Linked DNA regions of Homo sapiens: region 2 is linked to region 1. A link means that fine-mapping ties the variant in region 1 to the expression of a gene that starts in the linked region. Tissue or cell type: whole blood. Region 1 holds a variant in brackets; the other region holds the start of a gene. All regions are shown on one strand. Distances are between the middles of the regions.

The links. PIP is the estimated chance that this variant, and not a neighbour inherited with it, causes the effect.
Region 2: it holds the start of ITIH4, and the variant in region 1 is fine-mapped to the expression of ITIH4 in whole blood (TOPMed, PIP 0.98).

Annotation. Positions count from the first base shown.
Region 1 is chr3:52,910,356-52,918,456 of GRCh38, reverse strand. SFMBT1 (Scm like with four mbt domains 1) reads left to right here. Exons shown (of 21, transcript NM_016329.4): 14 at 2,243-2,307; 15 at 4,840-4,979; 16 at 5,810-5,919; 17 at 7,279-7,454. Among named protein-coding and RNA genes, the nearest start is that of STIMATE-MUSTN1, 17 kb to the right of the region's middle. The variant A/G (reference allele first, on the strand shown) is at 3,751.
Region 2 is chr3:52,827,181-52,835,281 of GRCh38, reverse strand. It overlaps ITIH4 (inter-alpha-trypsin inhibitor heavy chain 4), which reads left to right and starts at 4,610. Exons shown (of 24, transcript NM_002218.5): 1 at 4,610-4,729; 2 at 6,003-6,163; 3 at 8,085-8,101. The coding sequence starts at 4,640. STIMATE-MUSTN1 (STIMATE-MUSTN1 readthrough) reads left to right here. Exons shown (of 10, transcript NM_001198974.3): 9 at 1,533-1,665; 10 at 1,852-2,161. The coding sequence ends at 1,958. It overlaps MUSTN1 (musculoskeletal, embryonic nuclear protein 1), which reads left to right and starts at 263. Exons shown (of 3, transcript NM_205853.4): 1 at 263-342; 2 at 1,533-1,665; 3 at 1,852-2,161. The coding sequence starts at 334. The coding sequence ends at 1,958. RefSeq lists enhancers at 6,650-7,257, 7,258-7,866.

The DNA.
Region 1 (8,101 bases):
TACAAGTTAGAATATCTAGAAAAATAACTATTTCAGAGGGTATATTTCCTCATTTTCTCAGATGGAAGCATAATTTTTTAATTCAACATTTGATCATTTGTATACTTCTCTTTGCAGTATATGCATTTTCTAAAATGGCATTATATACAAAAGGGTAAAATGCATTCTCAAGATGGTGTCTAAATTGAGTTTTCTTTGGCTTTTAGAGCCTTAAGATAGTTGAATAAAAGAAAGAAAATAAGAGTGCCCATGCTGGTATTCATTAAGGAAGAGCAAAAATTGTAAATTAGGGTATGATTTGTCACAGTGGAAAAAAATAAAGCTGGGGTAGAAGACAGCTCTAAAAGAAAAGGCACATTCAAAGGAGTGGCTTTGTGCCCATCAAGAAATTCTTCGTTTGTAACATACCTGCACACACAGCTTTTGAGAAACAGTTAATTAGTAGTGCCTTCAAACCTTAAAAGTACAAATGTTTCTGTGTGTATATGTGTGTTTTAAAACATTGGGTGTTGAATTCTCTATTAATCTGCTGGGGCTGCCATACAAAATACCACAGGCTCGGTGGCTTTAAACCAGCGGTCCCCAACGTTTTTGGCACCAGGGACCGGTTTCGTGGAAGACAGTTTTTCTACAGACTGGGGTGGGGAATGGTTTTGGGATGAAACTGTTCCACCTCAGATCATCAGGCATTAGATTATCCTAAGGGGCATGCAATCTAGATCCCTCACATGCACAGTTCACAATGGGGTTCACACTCCTGTGAGAATCTAATGCTGCTGCTGATGTGACAGGAGGCCGAGCTCAGGCCGTAATGCTCCCTTGCCTGCTGTGCGGCCCCATTCCTAACAGGCCATAGACGGGTACTGGTCCGTGGCCCTGGGGTTGGGGACCCCTGCTTTAAACCACAGAAATTTATTTTCTTACATTCTGGAGGCTGGAAAATCCAAGATCAAGGTGCTGGTAGATTGCTTCCTAGTGAGGGCATTCTCCCTGGCTAGCAGATGGCTGTCTTCTGGCTGTGTCCTTGCATGGTGGAAAAATCTTTCTCTCCCCGGCACCCCCCGACCCCTCTCTTCCTGTAAGGCTATCAATGCTATTGGATTATAGCCTACCCTTATGACCTCATTTAATCTTAATTACTTCCCCAAGGCCCTATCTTCGAATACAGTTACACTGAGCACTAGGGCTTCAACATATGAATTTGAGTAGGAGGAAACAATTCTGTATATAGCAAATTCTATAACTACCTAAACCTTTGTAACTATGTGGGTAATAAAACTAACAACAGAAGTGGAGAGAAAGGCCATAGACATTTATACCAAGTAGAGAAGTGAGGTAACAATGAAAAAAAAGACTGACCTTGGATTTTTCCTTGACTTAGTTGCCAAAACTGATCCAAAGCTTTAGTTAGGATGCATTCTAAAAGATAAATTAGCCTTTTTTCAGTGATTGCTACATACAGAATAAGCCTCTGTTTTTTTTTAAATAACATAATTTGTCTTTAATTTGAAAACTGATGGACGAAGAAAACGAACCCTATATAAAGTTTCTGTTCTTTGACTGTTGAAAAATGAGTAGTTTATTTGTGATTTAAGCATCTCACAAGAAATTTTGTAATTTTTTTGCCCAGTGAATGAAGAGAAAGTTTGAACATGTAGTATCACAATGCTATATACAGACTGTCCATTGGCTCATTATGCCCTATATATAGTTTTAAAAACAATTGTTCTTTTTTGTTGTTGTAGTTTTTTGTTGTTGTTGTTGTTGTTGTTGTTGTTTGGTTTTTTTGACACAGAGTCCTGCTTTGTTGCCTAGGCTGGAGTGCAGTGGCACGATCTCGGCTCACTGCAAGCTCTGCCTCCTGGGTTCACGCCATTCTCCTCCCTCAGCCTCCTTAGTAGCTGGGACTACAGGTGCCTGCCACCATGCCCAGCTAATTTTTTGTATTTTTAGTAGAGACGGGGTTTCACAGTGTTAGCCAGGATGGTCTCAATCTCCTGACCTTGTGACCCGCCCACGTCAGCCTCCCAAAGTGCTGGGATTACGCGTGAGCCACCGCATCCAGCCTTGTTCTTTTAAAAAAAAAAAAAAAAAAAAAAAGTATCATCAAGGGAGTACCTTCTGTTACAGATTTTGCGAACATGCCACATTTGCTTTCTTCTTAGATTTGAAGGAAACTAAGCCTCACACTTTACTGATCTTAAGAATTATCTCACTATTTTACTGTGTTTTCTTGACCCAGAGTACCATCCTCGAGGACTGTCCACGAGGGCCTGAGGAATCAGGAGCTGAACTCCACAGAGTCAGGTATAAGCACATGTCATCTTAAGGAAAAGAAGACTTAGTTTCTTTTAATGGACTATATCTGAAAATAACTTAAAACAGTACATTTGATGTATAGTATGTGTCTTCATAGAGGGGTCTCTTAATTGTGACTTTAGAGTTATAACTGTCTAAGATGTGTTTAGTTTAATAATCATCTCTAGGCTGATAGTTCCGTCCATTTCTAATAATTGTAGCTATTCTTTACTGATCAACCGTTGTGTGCCAACGGCTCAGAAGGCCAATGTTACCATCCTTGACTTTAGCTAAAGAACCTGAAGTTTTCCAGGCAGTGTTCTTTCTTAAGCTAGATGGTTGAGAGGTAGAAGTTTATTCTTTTTAAAACCCTTTTTTATGATATGCATACTTTGTATATAAATTTCACAGTTTATGTGAAAAAAATAAAGCAATGGAAAAAGAAATTGTCCCAGAGGCAATTAATGCCTGATAAATGAGAGAAAAATCCTTGCTGGAGGTTCAAGCCTTTTGTCCAGGGTCCTCTCTTGAACTATTCTTAACTTCCACGTGCTTGTTGTGTAATGTTTAGCATCCTGGCTGTGTGTATTCTAGCACAGATTGCGCATTTGGGTGATATTTAGTAAATGCCTAGAAGAGAAATCGAAGCTCAGAGAGATCACACAGCTTATGAGTAGAAAGACCAGAAATGAAACTGAAGTCTTTCACAAATTAGAAACCCGTACTTCCGTCTCTTGTACCTACTGCCTTTTCATTACATCATTTGTACATAGAGGGTTAGGACTGTGTAACTCCTTGCTTTTGATGCTTTCCTGGCCATTCGAATGCCTACTGAAACCACAGAATTTAAGACATTAATATCTTCTGCACAACCTCAGCCAAGGCCTTTTGGTTTGGGTTTTGTCATAGGTCAGGTTCCCTGGGAAACAGAGTCTGAGACTCTGACATATGCATTCAGGAGTTTCATTGGGGAGTATTTTTGGGAACAGCTCCTTAGAAGGAGTAAAGGAAGTAGGATTGGGCAGAGAGATAAGTTGAACCATGATGCAGTTGCAACAGAAGTTTCTTCTAGTTCCACTGGGAGCCCTGAAGCTGATCTAACCACTCAGAGTTGATCCTAATTCAGGTGTGGTGGCCACACTTTACTGACCAGTTATTGGAAGTAAGCCACTGCTCCCTCCCCACCTCACAAGGGGCAAGGTGGCCCTCTCCTGCTGAGAGCAGTACCCAGTTCAGGGTGATTCCAGAATAGACATAAAACTGGGAACTGTAAGCTGCCAACATACCCAGCAGCAGGGGTATGAGTGCCTTAATTCTGAAAAGAGGCATTTGGGTTGCAGGGTTCAACTGGAAATGTGAGCACCAGCATACTGGCCACTATGATAGACCATCGTTTTTTTGTTTTGTTTTGTTTTGAGACAGGGTCTCGCTGTGTCATCCAGGCTGGAGTGC[A/G]GTGCAGTGATATCAGCTCACTGCAACCTCCACCTCCTGGGCTCAAGCTGTCCTCCTACATCAGCCTCCCGAGTAGCTGGGACTACAGGCATATGCCACCACATGTGGCTGATTTTTTTGTTTTTGTTTTTGTTTTTGTTTTTTGTAGAGATGGGGCTTCACTGTGTTACCCAGGCTGGTCTCAAACTGGACTCAAGCGATGTGCTCCCCCGTTGGCCTCCCAAATTGCTGGGATTACGGGCATGAGCCACAACACCTGGCTGTGACTATTCTTAATTAAAGAGAAAACATTATGAACTGCAGGATCCTATCAACAATGGGCAGTGTGCGCATATCTTTCCTTAACATTGGATTAACAGGCATATCTATTAGAAGAGCTTCTCTGTGCTTTATAGCAGTATTTTAGTGTCTTTGAATTTTTTACATTCAACAGCTGACATGCCTACCACTATGAGGGGATTTTTTAAAAACATTAAATTGAAGGACAGTATTGATACAGACAAATAGTTGAAGAAAAGGGTCTCCAGACCCAGTTATACCCCACAGTACAAAAAAAACTTAGAGATGTGGTCACAGCATACTTTTAGCCCTCTGAGAAATCTCAGAGATGGGATTGCTCTCACAACATCAAAGGCTGCCAACATATTAGTTTGGTGGTTTTTAGGAGACAAACTAATTCTCAATAATATTCAACAATTTCTATAAATATTCCAGAATAGATGATTGAAAGTTGGTTTTTGAAGACCTGGAAAAGAAATCATTGATCATCCAGAATCCTCATGTGTTCTTAAAATACACCCTCCACTTTCTTTATTAATAGAAGATAGGGTTCTTCTATCAATTTTGCAGTAACCTAGGAACTAATCAGCATGTTAATTCAGGACCCTCTTTGATTTCAGCAGAGTGATAAGCTCTGTAAGTTACTTAAGAGCATTCTCAGACAACATGTTAAGCTTCAAAATAAGTAATTCCAAACTTTATATTAATATAATGGTACATGTGCTTCGTTTTTCTTCCCTGGCAGTTCAGCTTTGGAAACGTGGGGTAGAGAATGACTGTTTTGAATATTTGTTTTTCTTCATTTCCCAGTTATGATTAATGGAAAATATTGCTGTCCAAAGATATACTTCAACCACCGTTGCTTCTCAGGGCCATATCTTAACAAAGGAAGAATTGCTGAGCTGCCTCAATGTGTAGGACCTGGGAACTGTGTTCTGGTCCTTAGAGAGGTAAGGTTCTGGCCTAGAGCAAAATAACTTGGAAATTTCACAGCATTCTCCTATGGTCATTTCTACAGGGAGCCACATGCCATAGATGTGACAGTTCTAGGTTTTATCAAAAGTTACTAACTTTTCTCATGTTTTGGACAGTGAAGAGGGTATGTAATTATTTCTCCTCCCTAGGAAACATTCACGTAAACAACTCTTCACACAGCAGGTTCACCTCTGTCAGGGTAGAAAGGTCTTCTGTCAGAGACCAGAAGAGAACTATACAAAAGTGAACTGTGAGGTTACTCTATGACTGAAAGGCCGTGGCTATGTGGCATTAACCTAGCGACCGTGATAAAGCTACACATCTGCTGGGCTTTCTGTTCTTCCCAGCCAGTGTGATATGCTGCAAGTAACAGATAAGAGACCTTTCAGCCCTCAGGGTGGCAAGTCAGGATCTGGGGAAGCCAGAGCGTCTGGACCAGACTCCTCCAGCCACAAGAAGGCTCAGCTGTCTACACAGTGGTCCAAACAAATATAATTTTCTGTGTGTACCGTGGCTGGGAAAGCATTTGGAAGCATGTTCTGGAGCAATTTGAAAATCATGGTACCTGTTTTTTTCCTGACCGTAACATTTAAAAAATGTTGAAAAGGATCTGGTTACTCTCTTATCTGCACCTTTGGGTGGCTGTAATATCTCTGATACTATTATTTTGTTAACATTTGTTAATTCATATGACTAGAATTTAACCTCCTAAATAATCTTAACATTTTAAGGAAGAGATGACAAGATTCTAATGGTCTGCTTTTCTCCTTCCCAATCTGTGTTTCTGCTTTAAAACTGAGCTCAGGTCCTCACTTTACTTATCAATGCAGCCTACAAACCCAGCCGTGTCCTTCGGGAGCTCCAGCTGGACAAAGACTCTGTGTGGCACGGATGTGGGGAAGTCCTAAAAGCCAAGTGAGTGGACTACTTGTTTTTACTCTTTACTTTTACTTGTCTTTAAAAAGTCACAGAATCGGCGTGGCACAGTGGCTCACACCTGTAATCCCAGCACTTTGGGAGGCCGAGGCGGGCGGATCACAAGGTCAGGAGTTCAAGACCAGCCTGGTCAACATGATGAAACCCTGTCTCTACTAAAAATACAAAAATTAGCCAGACACGGTGCACACGCCTGTAATCCCAGCTACTTGGGAGGCTGAGGCAGGAGGATTGCTTGAACCCAGGAGGTGGAGGTTGCAGTGAGCTGAGATCGTGCCACTACATTGTAGCCTGGGTGACAGAGGGAGATTCTGTCTCAAACAAAAAACAACAAAAAAAATTCACAGAATCAGTTCTGTGGATAATATCAGAAGCCTTATGTTTCCTTAGGCAGGGCTTTTTCAGCTATTTGTGGTGAAGGCCCAGGCTTGTTTTTCTTTTTTAGATTTCCATTCTTTCATGGATCAATACATTTATAAAATATGATAGAATGAATTATAAGAAATACGAAATTTAAGACCGGGCACCGTGGCTCACGCCCCTAATCCTAGCACTCTGGGAGGCTGAGGTGGGCGGATCACCTGAGGTCAGGAGTTCAAGACCAGCCTGGCCAACATAGTGAAACCCTGTCTCTACTCAAAATACAAAAATTAGCCAGGTGTCGTGGTGTGTGCCTGTAATCCCAGCTACTTGGGAGGCTGAGGCAGGAGAATCTCTTGACCTGGGAGGCGGAGGTTGCAGTGAGCTGAGATCATGCCACTGCACTTCATCCAGCCTGGGTGACAGAGCGAGACTCTATCTCAAAAACAAAAAGGAAATAAGAAATTTAAGACATAAAAATGCAAGAACAATTTTTGTTATTAGATGTAAGAGACATAAAATTACTTTTTCAAATTACTGTGAAAGGTTATAAACAGGTACTCTTGCTTTCTGATCTTGTCATGGATGGATGGCAGGCAATTGGCAGGTCATACTGGTCCTTGGATAACAGTCTGAGGATCACTGCCAAGGGTAAAGAAAGACTTAGTGAAAAGTCACTTTTCTTTTTAGAGCAGTTAGTGAAATTACTATTTGAAAACCTTAACTTAGGAACAGAAAGCAGGAGCTTAATTTTGCTAATTTAAATAACTCAGCTTTTAGTTGTCATAGCTTACCAGATTTAATTTGATTTAAGTTCAATATGCAGAACTTCCTTGTTGTTTTCAGGGCCCTTGAACTATAAAGGACATAGAATATTCCAAGAAGCAAAAATATTTTTTAGGTGTATTAATATGTTTGATTTTTCTCTGGGTAATCATTAGCCCAATATATTTGGCATCTGATGTCTTCCAATGGCAGATATAAAGGAAAGAGTTATCGGGCTACTGTTGAGATAGTGAAAACAGCAGATCGGGTGACTGAATTCTGCCGGCAAACCTGTATCAAACTGGAATGCTGTCCTAACCTCTTCGGTCCACGGATGGTTCTGGATAAGTGTTCTGAGAACTGTTCTGTACTTACAAAGACCAAATACAGTGAGTCATGTTTTTCCAATGTGTTAACCATAGCAGCTGACCATACCTTACATCTTGGAAAGTTTTTTACTTTACAGACATTCATATATAGCAGAGGCACACGAACTTCTTCTGTAAAGGGCCAGATGATAAATATTTCATGTTGTGGGTCATATGCTTTCTGTCACATATTCTTTTTCTATGTGTTGTGTTTTCATTTTTTAAGAACCCTTTTGGCCGGGTGTGGTGGCTCATGCCTGTAATCCCAGCACTTTGGGAGGCCGAGGCAGGCGGATCACTTGAGGTCAGGAGTTCGAGACCAGTCTGGCCAACATGGTGAAACCCCGTCTCTACTAAAAATAGAAAAACTAGCTGGGTGTGGTGGCACCTGCCCGTAATCCCAGCTGCTTGGGAGGCTGAGGCAGGAGAATCACTTGAAAGCGGGAGATGAAGGTTGCAGTGAGCTGAGATTGCGCCACTGCACTCCAGCCTGGGTGACAAAACGAGACTCTGTGTCTCCAAAAAAAAAGAACCCTTTAAAAAATGTAAGGGTAATTTTTGGCTTGGGGGCTATACCAAAACAGGTCATGGGCCAGACTTGACTCATGGGCTTTAGTGTGCCAACTTTTATATATAGCATGTATATAAATTAGTTATTGTATCTAATA
Region 2 (8,101 bases), 83 kb after region 1:
AGCATGTCCGTCAGTGCCAGCACCTCCCCCCGGCGAATCAAGCAGCTGTCCCAGAGGGCAAAGGGTCTCTGCAGCCATCTGCTTTCATCAGGGCTGCAGCCCCCAGGCAGCAGTACTGGGAGCCCCTCTCATCTCCGAGAATAAACTCTGAAGCCAGCGACCCTGCGGACCTGAATCATCAGGGAGCCTGTCAGAGGAGGGGCAGTGACTCTGCGGGACAAGCAAGCAGGCTATATAAGTTTCAGAAGGCTGGGCTCCACTCAGATCTTTTCCAGCAGCTGCTGCCTGCCAGAGAGGCGCCTTCAGAGACCCAGCGCTTACACAATACCCACCATGTCCCAGGTAGGAGGACCCAGCAAGGGCTGTGTTGATGCCAGAGGGAGTGGAGGTGGAGTCCTGGACACTTTCGGCTCTGGCAGCTGTGTCTTGATCTGAGCCCCAAGCATGAACTGGAGGCTCTGCAGCCCTTGGGAGATGGGGGCTCAGGGAGGACCCCCTGAAGAACCCCTCTTCTATGTGGCTTTGGTGGTATTCCACGGTTTGTTAGGAGGAGTGGAGAGAAATGTTGGGGGTGGGGGGGGCCTAGATAGATCTTTGCATGTGCCTGTGTGTGTGTGTGTGTGTGTGCGCATCTGTGTGTGTGCTGCCGATATAGCTCAGTGTGTAGAGCTTTGTGCATTTGTAGCTATGGGCCCGGCAGCCATGCACTCTGTGTGTGGCCACACACATAGGTCTGTCTGTCTCTGTGTATGGTATATGCATGAAGCTGTATGTGTGTGCACATGAGGCTGGAGGGACACAGCTGGATGCATCGCTGTACAGGGGTATAGTGTGTTGCTCTGAGGAGCCTGGCCCAGGCTGAGCGAGGAAATACCTGCACCTGCACCCAAGCACAGGCAGGTCTCAGACTCACAGGCGCCTGGGGTTGAGGGGTAGGGTAAACACCGAGCCTGGGTGTCCCCCACCCTGGAGGGACAGACCAGCCTGCCAAGAGAGAGGACTGTCCTTGCTGCCTGCTCTGTGGGTGGGTGGCCATTTTGGACTGTAATTCTGTGGGCATCTGGCCCTTCTACCCCATTTCCAGCCCCAAAGACACAAAGTAAATAGTGGCGCTTTTCTGGAAGGGGGCAATCCTTGAGGAACCGCTTGCCACCCAGTGAACAGGTTTTGGAACTAACCAAATTCCCTAGTATTGCCCAACCTCAGAGCTAGTCCCCTTCGCTGTTCCCCACTGTGCCCAGTCCTGAGCTTGACCAGGTAGCCAGACACGCCAGTGTGAGGCTGCAGCAGCCACTGCTCCCAAGAGCTCCCAGGCTATAGGGGAAAGGCACATGGGCAAGTCAGACCAAGACAGCTGGGAGACCTGCAGCAGGTGGAGTATAGTTGGGAAGGCTTTCTCTGGAAGAGGAGTAGAGCCTTGAATAGGCTTGGGTTTAATGAGCAGAGAAGAGGGGTCTTGGCCAAGGCACAGAGGTAGGTGTGCCTTTCTACCGAGGCTTCAGGTAGTAAGATGAGGCTCTTGGATCTCCAAGGCTGGTGCTCAGGAAGCCCCTATCAAGAAGAAGCGCCCCCCTGTGAAGGACGAGGACCTGAAGGGGGCCCGAGGAAACCTGACCAAGAACCAGGAAATCAAGTCCAAGACCTACCAGGTCATGCGAGAGTGTGGTGAGTGTCCTCATGCCATCTGGGGCTGGGGATGGGGGTGCAGGTGTGTGTCAGTGGTGGGGGGAGGTGGTCAAGGATCCTTTTCTGAGAATCCAGTATTCCTGGGTTCAAGAAAGGTGCTCCCATCGTAAGGGATCTTCCCTCCCAGGAAGCTAGGCTGGCCCCTGACTTTACCTCCTCCCACAGAGCAAGCTGGCTCGGCCGCCCCGTCGGTGTTCAGCCGCACCCGCACAGGTACCGAGACTGTCTTTGAGAAGCCCAAAGCCGGACCCACCAAGAGTGTCTTCGGCTGAGAAGTGTGCGCCACTCCCCTTGCTGCCCGAATGCTCGGAAACAGGAGCCTTTCCCAGGAACTCTTTTTTATGCCAGAACGCTTCCTCTCCCCTGCTGTCTCTGGGGCTGCCACCCTCCCCCACAGTCCAGGCCCTTCAGCCAAGGGCTCTGCACCAGCACCTTGGAAGCACCAATAAAGAGGATGCCCACGTGGCCCCAGCAATCAGAAGGTGTTGGTTGGTCCCTGGCTATGGCCACTATTGAGAGGGAGGACAGGGTGGGAACATGGAACATGTCCGTTTAAGAGGATCCCAGGGGATAGCACAGGTGCTATTATGGGCACTGCCACATGCTGCCTTGGACATGGAGACTCAGTGCTGACCTGTGACTTCAGACTTTTCTGAGCCTCAGTTTCCCCTTTTATACTACAGGGGAGTTGAGCTGGAGTCTATTCCATAAAGCAGGCCATGATGACACTGCTCAGAGTGAAGTGGGTGGGGTCTCAGGGACCACCTCTCCTCCTGCCTTCCACAGAAGCTGCTGAGAAGCCTCTGAGGACCTGCAGGCTCTGCAGCACCTAGGGACCTCAAAAACCCCTCTCCCTGCACTGCACTAGGGACCTCAAAACCCCTCTCCCTGCACTGCACTAGGGACCTCAAAACCCCTCTCCCTGCACTGCACTAGGGACCTCAAAACCCCTCTCCCTCCCTACACTTTTGTTCACACTGCCTCCTCCCGGCTTTTGTCCCCTCCAAGTCAGAGCCAGATTGAGATTCCTCTCTGGCAGTCAGTTTCCTGAGCTACCGTCTCTTCCAAACAGCAGGGGTAAGACTCCCACATTCTGCTCCAACCATGCTGTCTGGGGCATGGAACACCAGATTCTCAGCCTGCATGACCCTTCTCTCTCCAGTCCTCTGTCCCCTGTGTGCCTGGAAGTGCCAGGTTCAAAAGACCCATAGAGGCCTGTCCCGTTGTGATGGCAAGACCATGACCATGGACAGGCTGACAGTGGCTCTTTTCGGAGCTGGACTGGCAGAGCCTGGGCTTGTGGTGCCTGGCTCGGGGCTGATGCCTGCTGGGGATGCCTTCCTGTCCCAGGAGGTTCTGGCTGCCCAGAACGTTTCCCACAGTCCCGGCCAGCCTGGCCACCTTATATAGCCCTGAGTCCGGGCTGGGCCTGTGCTCTCTGCCCCAAGGGAGCAGCCCTGCTGTGAGGAAGGGCCCAGTCCTACTTGCTGGACTCCATGGGGAGACTCTTCCCCCAGACACTGAAAGGAGCGTGTTCCCCTGTGTAATCCCAATCGTATCCAGAGCCAAAAGGGTGAGCAGTGGAGACGTGCGCAGAGATGAGGCTTCTGGCCAGTCATGCTAAGGAAGGGGAACGTCTTCCTTGCAGCTGTAGAAATAGCTCCAGTCTATGGCACCTTTGCCCCAGGCCTGCCGCCACCTCTAATGGAGACAGGACTGGTGGAGAAACCCTCCCCAGCCTCTGGAAGCCACTGGCTGCCCCAAGGCCCCCGATAGGTTCCCAAGGCAGCTGGCCCCCTCAGGGCTGGTGTCACGGAGCCGCCGTCCTTCCCTGATCCAGGACTTGGCATCTGGCCACACTTTTATGACTCATCTTTACCCATCTGTGGCCACAGACTCAGGAGCTGGCTTCCCCAGAGCCACCAGGGAACACGAGCCCCAGCGGTGCCCAGAGCGCATAATATGTACTCACTCGATCCCACTTTACAAGGAGCAGAGCGCTTCAACTTTAGCAAGGCCGGGACCCACCCCAGGCCTTTGGGCAGCGCTCCCCTGGGTCTGGGCTGTGGCAGCATCACACTGCTCATGACAACAGCATTCTGCCCTCTCTCAACCAGCGATTCCTGGGCTCCCTCTGCTCCACCAAATGACTCCCCAGTCACCCCTCAGGAGCTGCTGGCACTGTCAGGTCTGTCTTCTGTTCCATGCTCTTCTGTCAATAAACTCCCCGCATGGAGACCTCTGTGCCACAGGATGTGGCAGGTTTATGACTCAGTTGTATTGCCATTCTTGTTTTGGGGGCCTTGCTGGGGTTGAACCTAAAGCCCTGGCTAGATTAATGGCACCCAAACAGCAACCTGGGACCCCAGGAGAGAGAAGGAGGCGCCCCGTGCCCAGCACCTCTCACTTCAGAAATACGGCGTATCTATCCTGACTCTAGATCTGCCCCACACAGACACCTCCCAGAGTCACTCCATGCCTTTGGGCCCTCCCATCAGCCAGACACACTTACCTGGTGGCCAAGCCCCCTTCTTCCGGGAAGCCGCTAGGGTAGCCCTGTAGCCCTAGTCTTCCCCACCATCCCCCGCTGTTTCTCCCCGGGCTGGACTTAGGGAGAGCAGACTGACATCTTCACTGTCAATTCCCTCCCAGCCCTGTGGAGCTTGGTGGAATGCCTGGTGTGAAGGGTCCTGGTGAAGGTTTCGCACTTTTCAGAAGGGGCATGTACCCCCACTCCAAACTGAGCCTACCTTTCTTTGGTATACATTCCTGCCCCCAGCCAAGGTCCATGGGACGTTCGTCATTTGCTTATCTGAGGTCACTGTGGTTTTTGGCTTGTAGATCCCAATTTCCCAGAACCTGCCCCCATGTGGGTGGGGCAGCAAACAAGTTACTAATCCATTCCCCACTTGCTGTCGAGTTCAGAAGCCTCCTGGCAGACACTGGAGCCACGATGAAGCCCCCAAGGCCTGTCCGTACCTGCAGCAAAGTTCTCGTCCTGCTTTCACTGCTGGCCATCCACCAGACTACTACTGCCGAAAAGGTAGCCAGTGTCCATGGGTGTGGCGTGAGCTGGGGGATGAGAGAACGCCTGGGAAGTGGGGAAGAGCCTCCGCATGTGCCAGCGTGTCAGCACAAGTGCGTGTGCATCCCTGTGTGTGCAAAAAAATGGTGCAGACCTCCCGCCAGGCACTACCCCAAGGGCCTTACTGGTATTCTCCCACCTAATAGAGGGGATGATCCAATCATTTCCATTTTCCAAATGAGGAAATACAGTTTTACAAGCCTGGCTCTACCGCCTTTTAGTAAGTGACCTCAGGAGAATGATTTATGCTGACTATGTCTCAATTTCCTCATCTGTAAAACAGGGTAATACTAGAACCTATTCAGAGGGTGGCGGTTGTGAAAACCAAACCCATTGTATCTATAAAGTGCTTAGGACAGTGCTTGTTGTGAAAACCAAACCCATTGTATCTATGAAGTGCTTAGGACAGTGCTTGTCGCAGAGCAAATACCCAAGCACATAAACAAGCCACTTGGCACCTCTGTGCCAAACTGCATTCAGGCAGCCGCATGCAGCCGAGCAGAGTTGGTGCAGTGCGCATGAGCATGTCACACACAAGCAGGTAAGAGGTGCCCGTGTGCCCCTCCTCGGGGGACACAGACCTCAAGGCAAATGGCACCTGCTAGGGGAGTGCCCTGCGGAAGTGGGGATGAGTTGGGGAGGGTCCACTGCGGAGCAGAGAGGAAGATTCCCAACTCTCAGAGACCAGACTCTAGTCTACCTCCGAATTCTCCCAGCTCTGAGGGCTTCCTTCTAGGAGACTGGTGGGAGCTTCCCTGTTGCCACAGAGGCCAAAGTCTCCAGAAATCAAAGGACCTGGTCACTGCCCTTTTTCTGGGCAAAGCTAAGCCAGCATGCAAAGCTCCCTGACCCCACCAGGTCTCTCACCCCTGCCCAAAGGCTGAGTGTGATGCCCCTCCCAGACACTGGCCCTGGCTTCACCAGCTCCACCCCCTGCATGCTTGTTCTTCTCCAAGGGGTGCTCTGGGCCCCTATAGATCAAGAAGGACGTGGCCCCTGCCCTGTGGTGCTGTAGGGTGGGGAATGAAGCACACTGCTATCTCTTACCTGAGACAAATGTTCACATATGAGATGCCTCACTGGGTTCAGCCTGAGGCCTGGTCAGTGGCTCAGTCAGATTGGGAGCCAGGGTTTGGTCTAGAGCCAGAGTCAGGGCCAACTCTTGAAGAGCGTCACCCCGAGCTGAGGTGGCATTGAAACCCTGCAACCCCCTTCTTCTTTGCTGGTCCAGAATGGCATCGACATCTACAGCCTCACCGTGGACTCCAGGGTCTCATCCCGATTTGCCCACACGGTCGTCACCAGCCGAGTGGTCAATAGGGCCAATACTGTGCAGGAGGCCACCTTCCAGATGGAGCTGCCCAAGAAAGCCTTCATCACCAACTTCTCCATGTAGGTGCCTTCCCACCCTCCTCCCCTCTCCACACCCCCCAGTGCTATGACTCCATCGCTCTGTGCCAGCAAACCCTCTTCTTGAAGTAAGGCATGCCAGGGTGTACATCTTCAGGAGTACACCCTGCACCTGGGGCCACACAGGAACAGGGGCTTGCCAAAGGACTTATTCTCAAAGATGCCCCCGTCCTTCCCTCCATCCAGCCATTCATCATCCCTAAGTGCTGTCCAGGTGTTAGGCAGAGAACCACAGAATCTTTGTGACTTTGCCTTTGAGGAGCACAGACTTGAGGCCTCCTGAGGCCAGACCAGGCAAGAGGGAGTCACCAAAATGCACATTCCAGCTCAAAGTACAGAAAACCTTCTAGACCCTTGGCTTCCTCACAGTGGAGAGTGGCTTGAGGAGGATTCTCCTAGGTCTGCCCCAGCTGGGATCCTGCAGAGGACATTTTTGCTCAGGCTGCGTGAGAGATGCCTGAGGTTTCTCTGAATTCTATGAGCCAAGGATGGTCCTCACTTTGTCCTCTGCCACCCTCCCCTACCCTTCCCAACTCAGTTTCCAATGTTTACTAAATGCACCAGGATGCCGCCTGTCCCTTGCTGCCAGGAAAAGCTGTGATTTAGGACAAGGGCAAGACTCTTCCCAGAAACAGGGCGATGGTGGGGCAGAGAGGGAGTGTCTCATGTGGGGTCCCACACTGTGGCCTCTGGAAAACTGCAGTGGGGGCTAGTCTCCTCCCTCAGGCGCCAAGCATCCCCCACTCCACCGCAGCCTCTACTTTTCCTAACCCAGAGCCCGGGCCTATGCTGCCCAGCTTGCAGTGCAAGCCCCACGGGCTGTGTCAGCCTTCGACATGGGTGCCAGGGTCAGCAGTTGCCAGGTCCAGGCCCGTGGCATCTGCTGAGAGCCCAAGACTGTCACTTGCCTTCTCTAGACCCAGAACCTGTTGCTGCATGAGTTAGGGGAGCAGAGAGCAGGTTCCCTGCTCCCTGACCTGGCCAGGAGCCCCAGCTGGCCATCTGGAGAGATGAAGCACTGCCTACCCAGGGGGAGGAGTGCCACTGCCCACTCACCAGCCCCATCCCGGGCTAGAGTTAAATTATAACCAGGAAGGTCAGGCAGGAGGGACGCGTAGTCCTGACATCCTGGCTGCTCCCCCTCCTGCCCACTGCCACACACTACCACATGAAGTTGACCAGGCACATCCCTACACACCCCACAAGGAGGCTCTGAAAAAGTCGTTTTCCTCCCTGAGAAATGGCCTGGGCCATTCTTTCTCAGCCCCCAAAGGATGGCTGCTAGGAGTGTGTCCACACACCCAGGAGTCCCGTCCACCAGTTGTCCAAAACCTCCTTCCAGATATGCCAGCCTCCCTATAGGGTGCCTGCCTCTTGTGGGAGGGAGCGGGGAGACTGCTGTAGGGGGAAAGTGCTCAGAGCCTCCAGCCCTACGTCTGCTTCCTCCTCAGTCCTGGCCCCACACGGCTGCACGCAGGGCTGGGAACAAGTGTGACTCAGAGAGCTCTTGCTGGTGATGAACTAGTTCCCCTGGAACAGTCCGTGAAATGGAAGGGGCAGGTGGGAATGTGGGCCAGCTTCGGCCAGACTGGACAGGTGGAGAGAAGGCAGGATTTAGCCCGGCCCTGCCCCTCTGCAGCCTCCCCTTCGTCCCTTCTATAAAATGAATGCTTACTGTTACTGTACACACCTCCGGGAGCTAGAGGCCTGGAGCACTTTGCAGAGTGCCCTGCACAGGGTCCTGTATGCGGTAGGTGCATAATAAATGGCACTGGGCTCAGGCAAAGATGGGAGTCACTGTGTCAAGAGGCACACCGAGTCCAGAAAGGCTCTCTGGAGGAGGCAGGAGTGGAATGGGCCCCTGCCACCAGGCTCTCAACAACTCCCACCCTTCTGCCCCCAGGATCATCGATGGCATGA